Homo sapiens: one gene and its partner. The protein of the gene in region 1 interacts with the protein of each later gene in a biochemical or structural test. Each region holds a gene or a part of one and is shown on either strand. Other genes may lie near its edges.

Region 1 (8,228 bases):
TCATCCTCAAAATAAATAGGAACCAAGGCTGAGGCAGGATTGCTTGAGGCCAAGAGTTCTAGACCAGCCTGGACAACACAGAAAGCCTGTGTACCAAAAAAAAAAAAAAAAAAAAAAAAGATTAGAAAATTAGCCGGGTGTAGCGGTGCATGCCCCGTTGCCCTTGCTACTCAGGGAAGCTGAGGCAGGAGGCTCTCGTGAGCCAAAGAGTTTGAGGCTGCAGTAAGCTATGATCACATCCCTGCACTCCGGCCTGGGCAACAAAGCGAGATCCCGCCTAAAAATAATAACCAGTAATTCTATTATAAACATACAACCAAAAACTTCACGGTTTAATACTTTTGCACAGAGGACCAATGAAGGGTTCTATAGAAAATTAGGTTTTTTATAAAGTGTGCTGATTTAAATATTATTTTCAAACAACTTTTTTTTTTTTTTTTTTTTGAGACGAAGTCTCGCTCTTGTCCCCCAGGCTGGAGTGCGATGGCGCGATCTCGGCTCACTGCAACCTCCGCCTCCCGGGTTCAAGCGATTCTCCTGCCTCGGCCGCCGCCACCAGGCACGGCTAATTTTTGTATTTTTTTTCTTTAGTAGAAACGGGGTTTCACCATATGGGCCAGGCTGGTCTAGAACTCCTGACCTCAGGTGATCCACCCGCCTGGGCCTCCCAAAGTGCGGGGCTTACAGGCGTGAGCCACCGCGCCCGGCCTCAACCAACTCTACTTAAAGAGTTTAAATACTACCTTCTTTTTCAGAGCAGGGAAACATAACGGGTAAGCGGGTACGCTTTTATTTCAAAAGTAAATTTGTTTATTAAGAAATTAAAGAAGCTTTCCGCAAAACAAGATGTTTAAACAATAAGGTGTGATTGGTCTTTTATTTATTGTACAAATATTTGGCACTACTATGTGCCAGACACCGGACTGAAGACGTTTGGTAAAACTTTCAACTTCTCTGAAGCCGAGAATAAGATTTTCAATTAAATTTACATGTGTCTATTACATTTGTCTTTCATTTCTGCCTGAGTAGCCGGGAAAACACATTAGACAGGTTCCTTAAAAACTAAAGTAAAATTTGAAGGAAGGAATAATTTCGGTTTAAACTAGTGATCATTCCCAACAACTCCAAACACCACATTCACTGTCTCTTACAAGGCATTTTATGTTACACCAATTACTAGTTTTAGCTTCATCCTATTACGATTTGAAGCCTGGTAACTCGGCAGGCATAAGCAAACCCACAAAAAGCATATTAAAATCCACAGGTAAAAAAGCAAACTATTCTGAAACAAAACATGCTTTGCTGGAGCCGATTTGAGATTTAACCAGGATCAGACATTCCAAATTGCAATACTGATGCACCAGAATGTCATGAAATAAATTTTTCCTGAATCCTAAGTCTTTCGTTTCCTCAAGCAAAATTTACCAATATGTGGGGAAAACGCAATCCAAACTGCAATTTTCAAATATTTGTTTGCAGGGCCGGGCCCGGTGGCTCACGCCTGTTATCCCAGCACTTTGTGAGGCCGAGGCGGGAGGACCACCTGAGGTCAGGAGTTCGAGACCAGCCTGACCAACTTGGAGAAACCCCGTCTCTACTAAAAAATACACAAATCAGCCGGGCGTGGCGGCGCATGCCTGTAATCCCAGCTACTCGGGAGGCTGAGGCAGGAGAATCGCTTGAACCCGGGAGGTGGAGGTTGCGGTGAGCCGAGATCTCGCCATTGCACTCCAGCCTGGGCAACAAGTGCGACACTCCATCTAAAAAAATAAATAAATAAAAACTAAAAAATTATAATAGGCGCCTAAAAATATAGTTTAAAATGCTCCTTTTAATTCGGCATGAACCTGTTCCGCCAAAAGATGGCCTGTTGCTGGGAAAAATTAAAACAAACTAGAAAACATAAACGGTTCAAAAAGCCCTCCACACGCAAAAGTATAAAAAGGCGGGAATTTCCTCATTTCAAATTTTGGTTAGAAATTAGAGTGTCATCAGTTGCCCTCCAGGGAGCGCTCTGAGACTCTGCTGCGAGTCATTTCAGTTAATAAAGCGGGAAAACGCTCGAACTTAACCTATAGCATTTTGGGGCCACCCCTCCAGAGCTTTCGAAAGGGCACGGAAGTCCCCGTCTAAACGCCCGCTGCAGGCGGCTGGTGGTCCAGGGAAGCGGCGTCGACTGCGTGCAAAACAACCGCCGCCAACGCAACTCCACACCTCCCAGACCCACACGTCAAAGAACGCGAACCCCGCGGCCCCAACTTCTGGCCTCTCCGCTCCGGCGCCTGCAGCCCCGCGGGGAAGGGGCGACGCGAGGGGGCGCAGGGACAGCCCCGCACCTGGGAGGCCCGAGGGGGCGCCCGGGAGGGAGGGGCTGCAAACGGCGGCGAGCGCGCGCGGCAACCGCCAAACGCCCGCCTTTGTAGCCCCGGCCCCGCGTCCTTACCCTGCCGACGGCTGCTCGGCTCCGGCCCGCGGCGGCGGCCCCAGAGCCGAGGACCGGGGTGGGCTCGCGCTCTTCGTCACTGGAGAAGTCCGGGGGCCCCTTGCTGTTGGTGCCGGCGGGGAGCGGCGGCCGGTTGCGAGCCGTGAGGTGCTGCAGGTAGAGCTGGACGTACACGTCTTTGCGCTGCTCCCCGGCCGGCAGCGTCACATTGTTGGCGACCAACTCACTCTTCAACTTGTCTTTTGTCAGGACCGAGGGGTCTTCCAGGAACTCCGGCATCTCGGGGATCTGCGAAGCCCCCTCCCCACAGCCTTTGCCGCCGCCGCTCACGCCGGCGCGCTTGCTCCTGGCCGGGGACCGCGCTGCCGCCTCCGAGCCTCACGGCTCCTGCCCGGGAAGAGCGCTGCGGAGCGGAACAAAAACTCGCGGACACAAAGCCAAGCCAGACCCGGACACAAAAGACCCCAGAGCCGAACTACGAACCAACTGCGGCCAAGCTGGAAGCTCGCACCAACCCCAGCCCACACACTACAGGCAGGAGGCGAGCAGCCTGCTTCGCCCACGCCCCAAGAACGCGCGCCGCCATTGGCGGGCGACGGGAGGAAGCGCGGCGGTGATTGGCGAGACGGCTCGCGCGGGTTCCATTAGCCGCCGCGCTGAGCGAGAGGAGGTAGAAACGCAGTTTAAAAGGCGCTGGGGCGGGAGCCGAGGCTCCCGGCCCGCTTCTGTTTTCGTTTTCTCCACCCTTCCCCTTAGACGCCGATAAGGGACAGGTCGTACTGCTTTTGTGCGCCGTTTCCTCTCCCTCCCCCAGCTTGAGAAGCAGCTTTCGTCTCTGGGGTCGATCGCCTACGAACGCGCCGAATTCCACGCCAGTGTGAGGACCCTTGGCTGGGCCTTTCTTCCTCCCGGGACACTGAAGCTCCAAGAGTAGCCGCAGCCTTGCCTTCCCCAAACGCTAGCCCTGAAGGGGAAGAAAAGAAGCGAGGCTTGTCTGCAGGCACTCATATTCCTTGATTTGATTTACTTTGGGAGGGGGAGGGCGGGGAGTTACCCCTCTCCTCGCGAACGCTTCTTTTGTTCCAGAAACCCAGGGGAAGCCAGACCTCTACAATCGGGCACTTAAATTACCCTTGAATTTGTGACAAAAGTGTACTATACCATTCACTTCTTAGTGTCATAGTTGGGGCATGTCTAAATTGTTTAATTTGAACAGTGCGTTCAGACGCAAGACAAATTCGCGCTTGCATTTTTGTTGAAACCGTCTCTGGCTTTGGATCCCACCACCCGCAAGAATCCTAAACCTAACGTTTGATAACAAAACGAAGGAGAACCCTTGGGAACCCCCTCAATGGTCAATTTAAAATAACAGATGGTGCATAATCCTAAAGGAAGACTAGTGACCTATAATTAGGCCTAGAACCCTAATCAAACCCGTATTACCGATCCAAATTAAAACCTGGTAGAATCTAATACATTGACTGCAATTAAAATGTTTGCCTGGAAATTAGTATCACTGATGACAAATATTTGTATTTCTGATGAATATGTATGTTTAAAGATGCTTTCTTTCTAGAAAGGAAAGGAGACCTTGGATGTAGGGTGTGTTAATCATTTCCCCAGAATCTGAGCTCCAAACTATGTTTTAGAAACTGGTTAAATTTTTTTTAAATGTTTGCCTGCTTTCTACATTGCTAGGTTAGAATACATTTAAAACAAACGCCTTCACTAAAAATGTTTCCTATGATTTAAGCGACTTACTTTTATTCAAATTGCGATATTATTTCTTTTAGTGATAATTATTTTCCTAGAGGTAACTAATTCCTTTATAAAAATCTCAGTATTCACATACATTTAAGCAATGGTATTAAGCTCAATAATGCAAATTAAAAATCAGGTTTTAATTAGCAAGTTGTTAGGTAGGTTTTTATGATCCCTTGTAAAAGTTGCTTGGTTTTTTGTCCTCACAGCTTCCCTGGACACATAGGCAAATGTTTTTATCTTCAGAAGGGGAACTGAGCTGAGAGGCAAAGGACCATGACTTTGCAATGACTGGTAACCCAGTACGTATAATGCAAGAACTGCATTCTAGATACGCCTGAAATTAATGTTTCCTGGGCAAAAACATTTTCATTATCTTTTTTTTAATCCCTGGACATTAGCTACAGGTGGTTACTTGCAGATTTACTGCTGTAGAGCTCCAAAATTGAGATTACACTTTTCAGATTCTGCGTACCCTAAGGCTAAGAGGTTGGGCTATTGAGTTTGGGTGGTCTCTTTGGTCCTGATTGCTACTTCCAAACCATTTCTGCTCTTTTCTGCTTCAAAAATATTTGAAGTTCATATCTTCTGGCTAAATCACTTTCTACTCTCCTTCCTGCCATCATCCACGAGCCTCCTGGTCACTTTCCAGAAATTATAGAGCTGCTTGCCGTAGGTTTTCCTCACCATCCCTCTTGTCTACATTCTATCTGAATTCAGCATGCTTGTAGGTGACCCATGCAACACCAACACTTGGCCTCTTAGACCTCTGACCTCTTCATCTCCAACAATTTGTTCCTCTCTTGCGTCTTAACCACTTCGGTATCAGTCAGATTCTGAACCTTGTCATCAGTTGAAATCTCAGTTTCAAGCTTCCCAATTGTCAATCACTAGCCTTTTTTTCCCAGCTAATTTATGGTACTCTCACTTACCTAATTAAGACCTCCACGCTATTAACCCCAACACTTAAAAAAACTCAACTCTTCTGCTTCTGCCATCATGTAATAATTTTGCAACTCACCTGACTTAAATTCCCTGATCAGTCCTTTTCATCACTCTTTTACAAACATTTTCAACTCTCTGATCTCAATGTCTCCTTTTTTGCTTGAAAGAATCTCAGCCTTGCTTGGACTAAACCATGCTCCAGCTGAACTTTCTCATTGCTTACATCCAAACAGCAAAAGCTGCTGGAGAAAAGTCAGTCATATAACAAGCTAACTGGTTTTAATTCATGACCTCAGTCCTCTCAGGAGCACTCAACACTGGCTGGCAATGCTATTCCAGTCTCTGGGTTAACCATTCATACGTTCACATCTCCTCAAATTTCACATCCTTTTTCCCTACCTCTCATTTTTAGCTGGTGACCTTGCCTCAACTTCAAAAAATAAAAACCACCTATGAGGAATGCTTCAACGTCAGACTTTCCAATTTGCATTCATTTTCTCTTGCATTTTTCTTTTCAGTGAAAGATGTGTCCTGTCAGAAGGAAATTCCACCACTTGTACTCTGGCTCTCACCCTTCTCAAGGAATTGACTCTTTCCATCATCTCCTTAATACTTGTTTCAACATAAAAGATAATTTTTAAAATATTTGATCAATGTGACACAAAAAACACAAAGGCTGAGCACTGTGGCTCACGCCTGTAATCCCAACACTTTGGGAGGCTGAGACAGGCGGATCCCTTGAGCTTAGGAGTTCAAGACTAGCCTGGGCAAAACAGTAAAACCCCCTCTCTACAAAAAAATACAAAATTTAGCCATGGTGCCCACCTGTAGTTCTAGCTACTAGGGAGACTGAGGTGGGAGGATCACTTGAGCCTGGGAGGTTGAGGCTGCAGTGAGCCATAATCCTGTCACTGCATTCCAGCCTGGGTGACAGAGTGAGACCCTGTCTCTAAAATCAATATGTGTAAGATGTAGATTGGTCCCTTCCAGAAAGGCGGGACAACTATTAATAAAAGTGGGGGTTGGGGGGCTCGGGGTGTTCCAGGTCATTGGTAGATAAAAGTAATTTTAATTCAGAAAATTTCACAGGGAAATGAGAGTTTTTAGAAGTCTTAATATTCTGACTGTGGTCAGAATGTCCAACAGAGACTAGGCTGGAGTGCAGTGACGTAGTCTCGGCTCACTGCAACCTCCGCCTCCCAGGTTCAAGCAATTCTCCTTGCCCCAGCCTCCAGAGTAGCTGGGACTACAGGCGCCTGCTAATACACTCATCTAATTTGTTTGTATTTTAGTAGAGACTGGGTTTCACCATGTTGACCAGGCTGGTCTTGAACTCCTGACCTCAGGTGATCCACCCGCCTCAGCCTCCCAAAGTTCTGGGATTACAGGCATGAGCCACTGTGCCTGGTGGATGCAAATTTTTTTTTTTTTTTTTTTGGAAATGGAGTCTCCCTCTGTTGCCGAGCCTGGAGTGCAGTAGCACAATCTCAGCCCACTGTAACCTCTGCCTCCCAGGTTCAAGCAATTCTTCTGCCTCAGCCTCCCAAGTAGCTGGGATTACAGGCGCCTGCTGCCACGCCCAGCTAATTTTTTTGTAATATAGTAGAGACAAGAGTTTCACCATGTTGACCAGGCTGGTCTCAAACTCCTGACCTCAGGCAATCCACCCGCCTCAGCCTCCCAAATTGCTGGGATTACAGGCATGAGCCACTGCGTCTGGCCTGATGCAATTTTTTTTTTTTTTAAATCAGAAAACTTTCCCATAACTTAAAAAAAAATCATCTGGAGGTGGGCCCGGTGGCTCACGCCTGTAATCCCAGCACTTTGGGAGGCTGAGGCAGGCAGATCACCTGAGGTCGGGAATTTGAGACCATGTGGAGAAACCCCGTCTCTACTAAAAATACAAAATTAGCCTGGCGTGGTGGCGCATGCCTGTAATCCAAGCTACACGGGAGGCTGAGGCAGGAGAATCACTTGAACCCGGGAGGCGGAGGTTGTGGTGAACCGAGATCGTGCAATTGCATTCCAGCCTGGGCAACACGAGCGAAACTCCATCTCAAAACAAACAAACAAACAAAAATCACCTGGATAACTGCCTCCATTCTTTTTTTGAAGTTCTTAATATTATTAACATACAGCTGGCTTTGTTTTTCATTATCCCATTTTGCGGAGGATTGGTTGTGAATTTAAGGGTGTCACCTCAAACAGGAGGGTAAGTTGCACTTTAAGTGATGTAAAATAGTAAGAAGCTAAAAACCTTAAAAAATGTTTAGTTCTCGGCCGGGCGTCGTGGCTCATGCCTGTAATTCCAGCACTTTGGGAGGCTGGGGTGGGCGGATCACTTGAAGTCATGAGTTCGAGCTCAGCCTGGCCAAGAAATTAAAAAATTAGCTGGGCCTTGTGGTGGGCGCCTGTAATCTCAGCTACTAGGGAGGCTGAGGTAGGAGAATCGCTTGAACCCGGGAGGCAGAGGTTGCAGTGAGCCGAGATCGTGCCACTGCACTCCAGCCTGGGCGACCGATCAAGACTCCATCTTAAAAAAAAATAATAAGAGGGGCCAGGAGCGGTGGCTCACACCGGTAATCCCAGCACTTGGGGAGGCCAAGGCGGGCAGATCACATCAGGAGTTCGAGACCAGCCTGACCAACATGGTGGAAGCCCCTCTCTACTGAAAATACAAAAGTTAGCCGTGCCTGGTGGCATGCGCCTGTAATCCCAGCTACTTGGGAGGCTGAGGTGGGAGAATCCCTTGAACCCGGGAGGCGGAGGTTGCAGTGAGCTGAGATGGCACCATTGCACTCCAGCCTGGGCAACAGAACGAGACTCGGTCTCTCAAAAAAAAAAAAAGTTTAGCTCCCTTAAGCCATTTCTGATAATTTATTCTAAAGATAAAATCAAATGTGGAATTCATTTATAAAGGTATTTATTGCTTCATTTATAATGGTGAAAAAAATAAAAAATCTCTATCTCCAATAGTAAGGAATTGGTTGTTTATGATATATCCATATGACAAAATAATGCACAGTAGTAAAAAATCATGTTTTGACATTTAAGAATATGAGGCTGGCTTGGTGGCTGT
Region 2 (7,458 bases), on another chromosome or scaffold:
GGAGGCCGAGGCGGGCGGATCACGAGGTCAGGAGATCGAGGCCATCCTGGCTAACAAGGTGAAACCCCGTCTCTACTAAAAATACAAAAAATTATCCAGACGTGGTGGCATGCATCTGTAGTCTCAGCTACTTGGGAGGCTGAGGCAGGAGAATCGCTTGAACCCAGGAGGCGGATATTGCAGTGAGCTGAGATTGCGCCATTGCACCCCAGCCTGGCGACAGAGTGAGACCCCATCTCAAAAAAGAAAAAAAATCCGGGCGTGGTGGCGGGCGTCTGTAATCCCAGCTACTGGGGAGGCTGAGGCAGGAGAATCGCTTGATATCCAGGAGGCAGAGGCTGCAGTGAGCCAGATGGTCCACTGCACTCCAGCCTGGGTGACAGAGTGAGACTCCGTCTAAAAAAAAAAATTAACACAGATCAAATATCTGTTGCGTACCAGTCACCGTTCTATGTTAGAGGATATGAAGATTTTTTTAAAAAAATGAATTACTGTTCTTTGTTGCTGAGAGTGTAGTGGGGGAGCTATATCCCAGCAAGTAAAGAAAGATTGTCTTTTGTCTGATGTGAAGCATTTTGATGCTGGCGCTTTTGTAATCTTTCCAGGAGTTAGCCACAGGAGGTTTTTCACACAGTAACAAGGCTGCCACCTGGCTGACAGTAGTTGTAAATGTATCGATTCTAAAATGCATGCTGGTTTCAGCGGGGTTAAAAAATGAGAATAATGTGTATTAGAATCAATGAAATAATGCATGTGATACAATTTAGGTAATAGCAGATGCTAAGGGAATAAAAATAAAGCGGAGTGAAGGGTTAGTGTGATTAAGGAAGGCCTGTCTGAGGAGTTGACAGTACCTATTCTCTGAGGGTTAGTAGTGTTCTGGGATTATATTTTTCTTAAGTCTGTGCTACTGTATGTATATTCCTATTGCCAGGATTAGATGACTCTTCTTTTCCCCCCAACATACCATCATTTGCTCAAAACATGCCACATTTTAGTTTGCTCCTTATTTGAATTAGGACTTTTTTTATATGGATTTATTCCTCAATAGCTTTTCATTTTTCTTGTTAAGAAAAATTTGCCCTCAGTGTGTTTGCAGACTTTTTGAAGATATTTAATCATAATATCTATCACATGAATCTGCTTTCTTCCCTAGAGTTCTCTTTGCTTAAGGTAGGCTGTGTACTGATGTCCTGTAACTTATTAAAGACAGCTTCCTGGCCAGGCACGGTGGCTCACACCTGTAAAGCACTTTGAGAGGCCTAGGCAGGTGGATCACCTGAAGTCAGGAGTTCAAGACTAGCCTGTCCAACATGGCGAGACCCCGTCTCTACTAAAAATACACAAATTAGCCGCGTGTGGTAGTGGACGCCTGCAATCCCAGTTACTGTGGAGGCTGAGGCAGGAGGCATTGCTTGAACCGGGGAGGCGGAGGTTGCAGTGAGCTGAGATCACACCACCGCACTCCATCCTGGGTGTATTTTCCTTTTCCTTGGTTTCTTCATATTTTGTTGAAGAACATCCTTAAGTAATTTATTCAGAAAGGATGGCAGGAGGTAAACTTTCTGAGTCCTGTATGTCTGAAAATAGCTTTGGGCTAGGTATAGAATACTAGGTTAACATTTTTCCAGAACTTGGAAAGTATTATTTTGCCCTATTGTCTTCTGGCATCTAGGGTTGTTAATGTCTTTCTTTTTTTTTTGAGACGGAGCTTGGCTCACTGCAACCTCCGCCTCCCAGGTTCAAGCGATGCTCTTGACCCAGCCTCCCAAGTAGCTGGGATTACAGGTGTGCACCACCACACCCGGCTAATTTTGTATTTTTAGTAGAGACGGGGTTTCACCGTGTTGGCCAGGCTGGTCTCCAACTCCTGACCTCAGGTGATCCACCCACCTCGGCCTCCCAAGGTGCTGGGATTATAGGCGTGAGCCACCATGCCTGGCCTATATTTAATTTTTTATTTGGAACTAGAGTGTTTGTAATTAAGTATAATCATCATTTAGGTAGATTTAGATTAAGAAAACAGCTTTGAGAGAATTATAGATTCCAGGTTACTTAGTTTCTTTTTGGTTCCTCAGCAAACAAGATACCTTAGAGGCAGAGCATGGAAATGCTTGGTCTAAAGAGAATTTGGCAACAGTTTCCATGCAGGTGGTGTCTGAATCCATAGAAAACAGACCTCATATGTAAGGTACAGTTACTTTGATTCAGTCCAAGACTGATTATATTTTGCTGAAAGCTTTTTTGAGAGAACAGTTTCCAAAAATGATGATGAATGCCATCACTCAACACTTTAAACAAAAAGTACAGAGAAATTGACTTGTTTCAGATTTTCACTGTTAACTATACGGGAAAACTAGATATAACAGAAAGTTAAGTGTTTACATCAGTCTTCAATAACTGATTTTGTGGATTCAGACATTTATTTTCCTTCAGTGATACAGGTCCCGTATCTTTTCTGTAAAACCCTGGGGGCCAGATGTGCTTTGGAAGTTAAAGCAATTCCAATTTAAGACGGTAATATGATGCACATACTGGATATGACACCCCCAGTGGGGTTTATAGATAGAGTTAGGGTAGATAGAGTTAGCACTCTATCATGAAACATTTCTGAGGGAAAGATATTGTCATGGCAAGTGGAGAAAGACAGATTGAAAATAGACCTGGTTTCAGGTCAGGTTTTGCCACTAAATGTGTTAATAAAAATTTTAGGTTTTCAAACTCTGGAAGTATAGATAAAAGATGGTGAATTTTTGTTTTTATTTATTTATTTTTTGACACAGAGTCTCGCTCTTTTGCCCAGGCTGGAGTGCAGTGACACAATCTCAGCTCACTGCAACCTCTGCCTCCTGGGTTCAAGCAATTCTTCTGCCTCAGCCTCCCAAGTAGCTGGGATTACAGGCACCCGCCACCACGCCCAGGTAATTTTTATATTTTTAGTAGAGACCAGGTTTCACCATGTTGGCCAGGATGGTCTTGATCTCTTGACCTCGTGATCTGCCCGCCTCTGCCTCCCAAAGTGCTGGGATTACAGGCGTGAGCCACTGTGCCTGGTCAAAAACATGCTAATCTTCTTTAGGAGTGTTTTCTTTGTACATAGGATGATTAATTGAAAAACAAAAACCTTTGGCTGGGCGTGGTGGCTCACGCCTGTAATCCTAGCACTTTGGGAGGCTGAGGTGGGAGGGTCATGAGGTCAGGAGTTCGAGACCAGCCTGACCAACACTGTGAAACCCCATCTCCATAAAAATACAAAAATCAGCCGGGCGTGGTGGTGCACGCCTGTAATCCCAGCTACTTTGGGAGGCTGAGGCAGGAGAATCTCTTGAACCCAGCAGGTGGAGGTTGTAGTGAGCCAAGATCGTACCACTGCACTCCAGCTTGGGCGACAGAGCGAGACTCTGTCTCAAAAACAAAAACAAACAAACAAAAAAACCACAAAAAACAAACCTTCATCATCCTGTGTATTACTATATCTTTTTTTAATGTACTGATTTTGCCCTATTTGAAGCAGATTGACAGTATACATCTTGGCCTTAATATAAGAGTTATCAAACTTTTATATTTTTATAACTTAAAATATAAGAGTTATAAAACTAGTTTTCTTTATAAGAGTTATAAAACTAGTTAAACTGCTTTTCATAGTTCTTTTATAACAGAGTTATGTTAAATGTTACTTTAATTTTCAAGGGAAGACTTGGAAGGACCAAACCCCTAAAAATGATTTAAAAGTCTAGGAAGCAGGTCCCAAGTAATTAAACTGTCATGACATTTCCTTCCCATGCTTTCAAAAGATGTTTGATAAAGCAAGATCTTTTGGAGTTGTTTATTTAACTTAGGGGATGAGACTAGGTAATATTTTGCATACCCAGATTCAAGGAAGTAAACAGGCAGAATGAAAGATAAAGCACTATTAAAATATGGTGGGTCTTTTCTTTTTTGTGTCTTTACACAGTTGCTGGTTATATTTATTCTTTCGTTTGTATAGATGGTGTCACCTCTGATATGTCTGAGTTAGAAATCTTCAGACTTTTTTTTTATGCCATTAGTGTAAGTCTCTTTCATGTACAAATGTTGAGAATGAGCCTCAGGTATCAGTTGAGTAATGGGACCCTGTATAGGTCCCATTATTTTTAGGATCAGGGAAGTTTTTAAAATCAGTTTTAAACCCTTTTTACAGTGTACCTCTTTGATAAGGAGATTGTGCTTTGGCTGTCATTTGATTTTTTTTTTTTTTTTTTTTTTTTTTTGAGACAGAGTTTTGCTCTCGTTGCCCAGGCTGGAGTACAGTGGTGCGATCTCAGCTCACTGCAACCTCCGCCTCCCGGGTTCAAGCAATTCTCCTGCCTCAGCCTCCCAAGTAGCTGGGATTACAGGCATGCGCCACTACACCCGGCTGATTTTGTATTTTTTTTTTAATAGACTTGGGGTTTTTCCATGTTGGTCAGGCTGGTCTGGAATTCCCAACCTTGGATGATCCGCCCGCCTTGGCCTCCCAAAGTGCGGGGATTACAGGCGTGAGCCACCGCACCTGGCCGGCTGTCATTTGAATTTTTATTATTTTATTTTATTTTATTTTTTTGAGGCAGGGTCTCGCTGTGTCGCCCAGGCTGGAGTGCAGTGGTGCGATCTCGGCTCACTGCAACCTCCGCCCCTCCAGGTTTAAGCAATTCTCTGCCTCAGCCTCCGGAGTAGCTGGGATTACAGGCACGTGCCACCACGCCCGGCTAATTTTTTGTATTTTTAGTAGAGATGGGGTTTCACCATCTTGCCCAGGCTGGTCTTGAGCTCCTGACCTCGTGATCCACCCGCCTCGGCCTCCCAAAGTGCTGGGATTACAGGCGTGAGCCACCGTGCCTGGCTTGAATTTTTTTTTTTTTTTGAGACGGAGTTTTGCTCTGTCGCCCAGGCTGGAGTGCAGTGGCGCCATCTCGGCTCACTGCAAGCTCCACCTCCCGGGTTCACGCCATTCTCCTGCCTCACTCAGCCTCCTGAGTAACTGGAACTACAGGCGCCCTCCACCACGCCGGGCTAATTTTTTTTTATATTTTTAGTAGAGGCTGGGTTTCACCGTGTTAGCCGGGATGGGCTCGATCTCCTGACCTCGTGATCCGCCCGCCTCAGCCTCCCAAAGTGCTGGGATTACAGGCGTAAGCCACTGCCCTCCGCCCGAATTTTTAAAAATTAATTTTATTATTATTATTTTTGAGACGGAGTCTTGCTGTGTCACCAGGCTGGAGTGCAGTGGCACAACCTTGGCTCACTGCAATCTCTGCCTCCCGGGTTCAAGTGATTCTGCCGCCTCAGCCTCCCAAATATCTGGGATTACAGGCACCCGCCACCATGCCCGGCTAATTTTTTTTTTTTTTAATTTCTAGTAGAAACGGGGTTTCACCATGTCGGCCAGGATCATCTCGATCTCCTGACCTCGTGATCCGCCCGCCTTGGCCTCCCAAAGTGCTGGGATTACAGGTGTGAGCCACGGTGCCCTGCCTAAAAATTAATTTTTTTTTTTTTTAATAACTGAGTCTTGCTCTGTCGCCAGGCTGGAGTGCAGTGGCACGATCTCAGCTCACTACAGCCTCTGCCTCCCGTGTTCAAGCAATTCTCCTGCCTCAGCCTCCTGATTAGCTGGGACTACAGGCACACGCCACCACGTCGGCTAATTTTTTTTTTCTTTTTCTTTTTCTTTTTTTTTTTTTGTATTTTAGTAGAGACGAGGTTTCACCAGGTTGCCCAGGCTTGTCTTGAACTCCTGAGCTCAGGCAATATCTGCCTGCCTCAGCCTCCCAAAGTGCTAGGATTACAGGTGTGAGCCACGGTGCCAGGCCAAAAATTAAATTTTTTAAACAGCAAATGTATATTCATTATAGAAAAGGAGAAAACACAAACACCAAGAAGAAAATTCTTGGTTGGGCCTTAGGTTGGGCCCAACCCTTAGGTTGGGACCAGCGGCTCATGCCTGCAATCCCAGCACTTTTGGAGGCCGAGGTGGGCGGATCACCTGAGGTCAGCAGTTCGAGACCAGCCTGGCCAACATGGCAAAACCCTGTATCTACTAAAAATACAAAAATTAGCCGGGCATGGTGGTGGGCACCTGTAATTCTAGCTACTTAGGAGGCTGAGGCAGGAGAACTGCTTGAACCTGGGAGGCAGAGGTTGCAGTGAGCCGAGATCGTGCCACTGCACTCCAGCCTGAGTGACAAAGCAAGACTCCCTTTGGGGGGTGGGGGAAAAGATGCAGGAAAAAAAAAAGCTGACATTTATTTTGTGCCAATTCTGTTTGCCAGGCATTACAGTAGATGCTTTACAGACATTATCTTTTTTTTTTTTTTTTTTTTGATGCAGAGTCTGGCTCTGTCGCCCAGGCTGGAGTCCTGGAGTGCAGTGGCACGATCTCGGTTCACTGCAGGCTCCATCTCTTGAGTTCACGCCATTCTCCTGCCTCAGCCTCCCAAGTAGCTGGGACTACAGGTGCCCGCCACTACGCCCGGCTAATTTTTTGTATTTTTTAGTAGAGACGGGGTTTCACTGTTAGCCAGGATGGTCTCGATCTCCTGACCTCGTGATCCTCCTGCCTTGGCCTCCCAGAGTGCTGGGATTACAGGCGTGAGCCACCGTTCCCGGCCAGACATTATCTTTTAAGCTCATGATAACTGCTGATGAGTAAGGAAACTTCAGGCTCAGAGAGTTTAAGTATTTTGCCTGGTATTACTTAGCAAGTAATGAAAGCTAGAAAGGATGGTAGCCTGACTTCTAGCATTGTGATAGGGTGTTCACATACATAACCTTATTTCATCCATACAACAGTGTTCTACAGGTATTACTCTGGTTTACCGACATGTAGCAGGCTCACAGAGCATCATTATCTGTGGTTGGTACTTGAAGTCTCAGATAGGATAGTTGATTTTCAGATCCCTTTGGGTGCTACTTTTGGAAATGCTACTAGTTGCATGTTTTTCACGTTGATAGTTTGTAGCCTTCAAGGGAGGTAATTTTGGATTTGTCAGAAGGGTAGTGGTCAGTAGTTGAAACAGCTGTTTGAAATACTGAGGGCTTCATTTGCTAAAGAAAGGTGAAGATGAATTACTGAAAGAGATCGCTTTTATCTTTTTTCTCTTCTTAAAAAGCTACTTTCCAACTTTATTCCATGCCTTAATAATTTAAAAGAAATTAAAACCTCTAAATAAATCTTTAATACTCATGACAGGGTGTTCTTTCATTCTTTATTCAAGACACATTTTTGTGGAACAGGTACTATATGCCAGGTCTTGAACCAGATGCTGGGAATAGAGAAATGGGATACTCAGTCCCCATTATCAAGTTACTTACAGTCTAGTGGGGAAGACAGAAAACCAACACTACAGGATTGTGATACTGTAAGTGCAGTATACTAATAAAATATATTAAGTGCTGTGATGCCAGTATCCAGGTGTTGCTGTGGAGAAACAAGGACCG

The links.
Region 2: the proteins of TMPO (region 1) and LMNB1 form a complex in vitro, tested with the Homo sapiens proteins (2 studies listed by BioGRID).

What each region holds. Positions count from the first base shown.
Region 1 is NC_000012.12:98,510,362-98,518,589, reverse strand, and holds the start of TMPO (thymopoietin), read right to left. Parts: upstream 3,001-8,228; 5' UTR 2,723-3,000; coding exon 2,444-2,722; exon of another isoform or gene 2,364-2,443; intron 2,170-2,363; exon of another isoform or gene 2,073-2,169; intron 1-2,072. UniProt on the Homo sapiens protein: May help direct the assembly of the nuclear lamina and thereby help maintain the structural organization of the nuclear envelope. Possible receptor for attachment of lamin filaments to the inner nuclear membrane.
Region 2 is NC_000005.10:126,779,792-126,787,249, forward strand, and holds part of LMNB1 (lamin-B1), read left to right. Parts: intron 1-7,458. UniProt on the Homo sapiens protein: Lamins are intermediate filament proteins that assemble into a filamentous meshwork, and which constitute the major components of the nuclear lamina, a fibrous layer on the nucleoplasmic side of the inner nuclear membrane.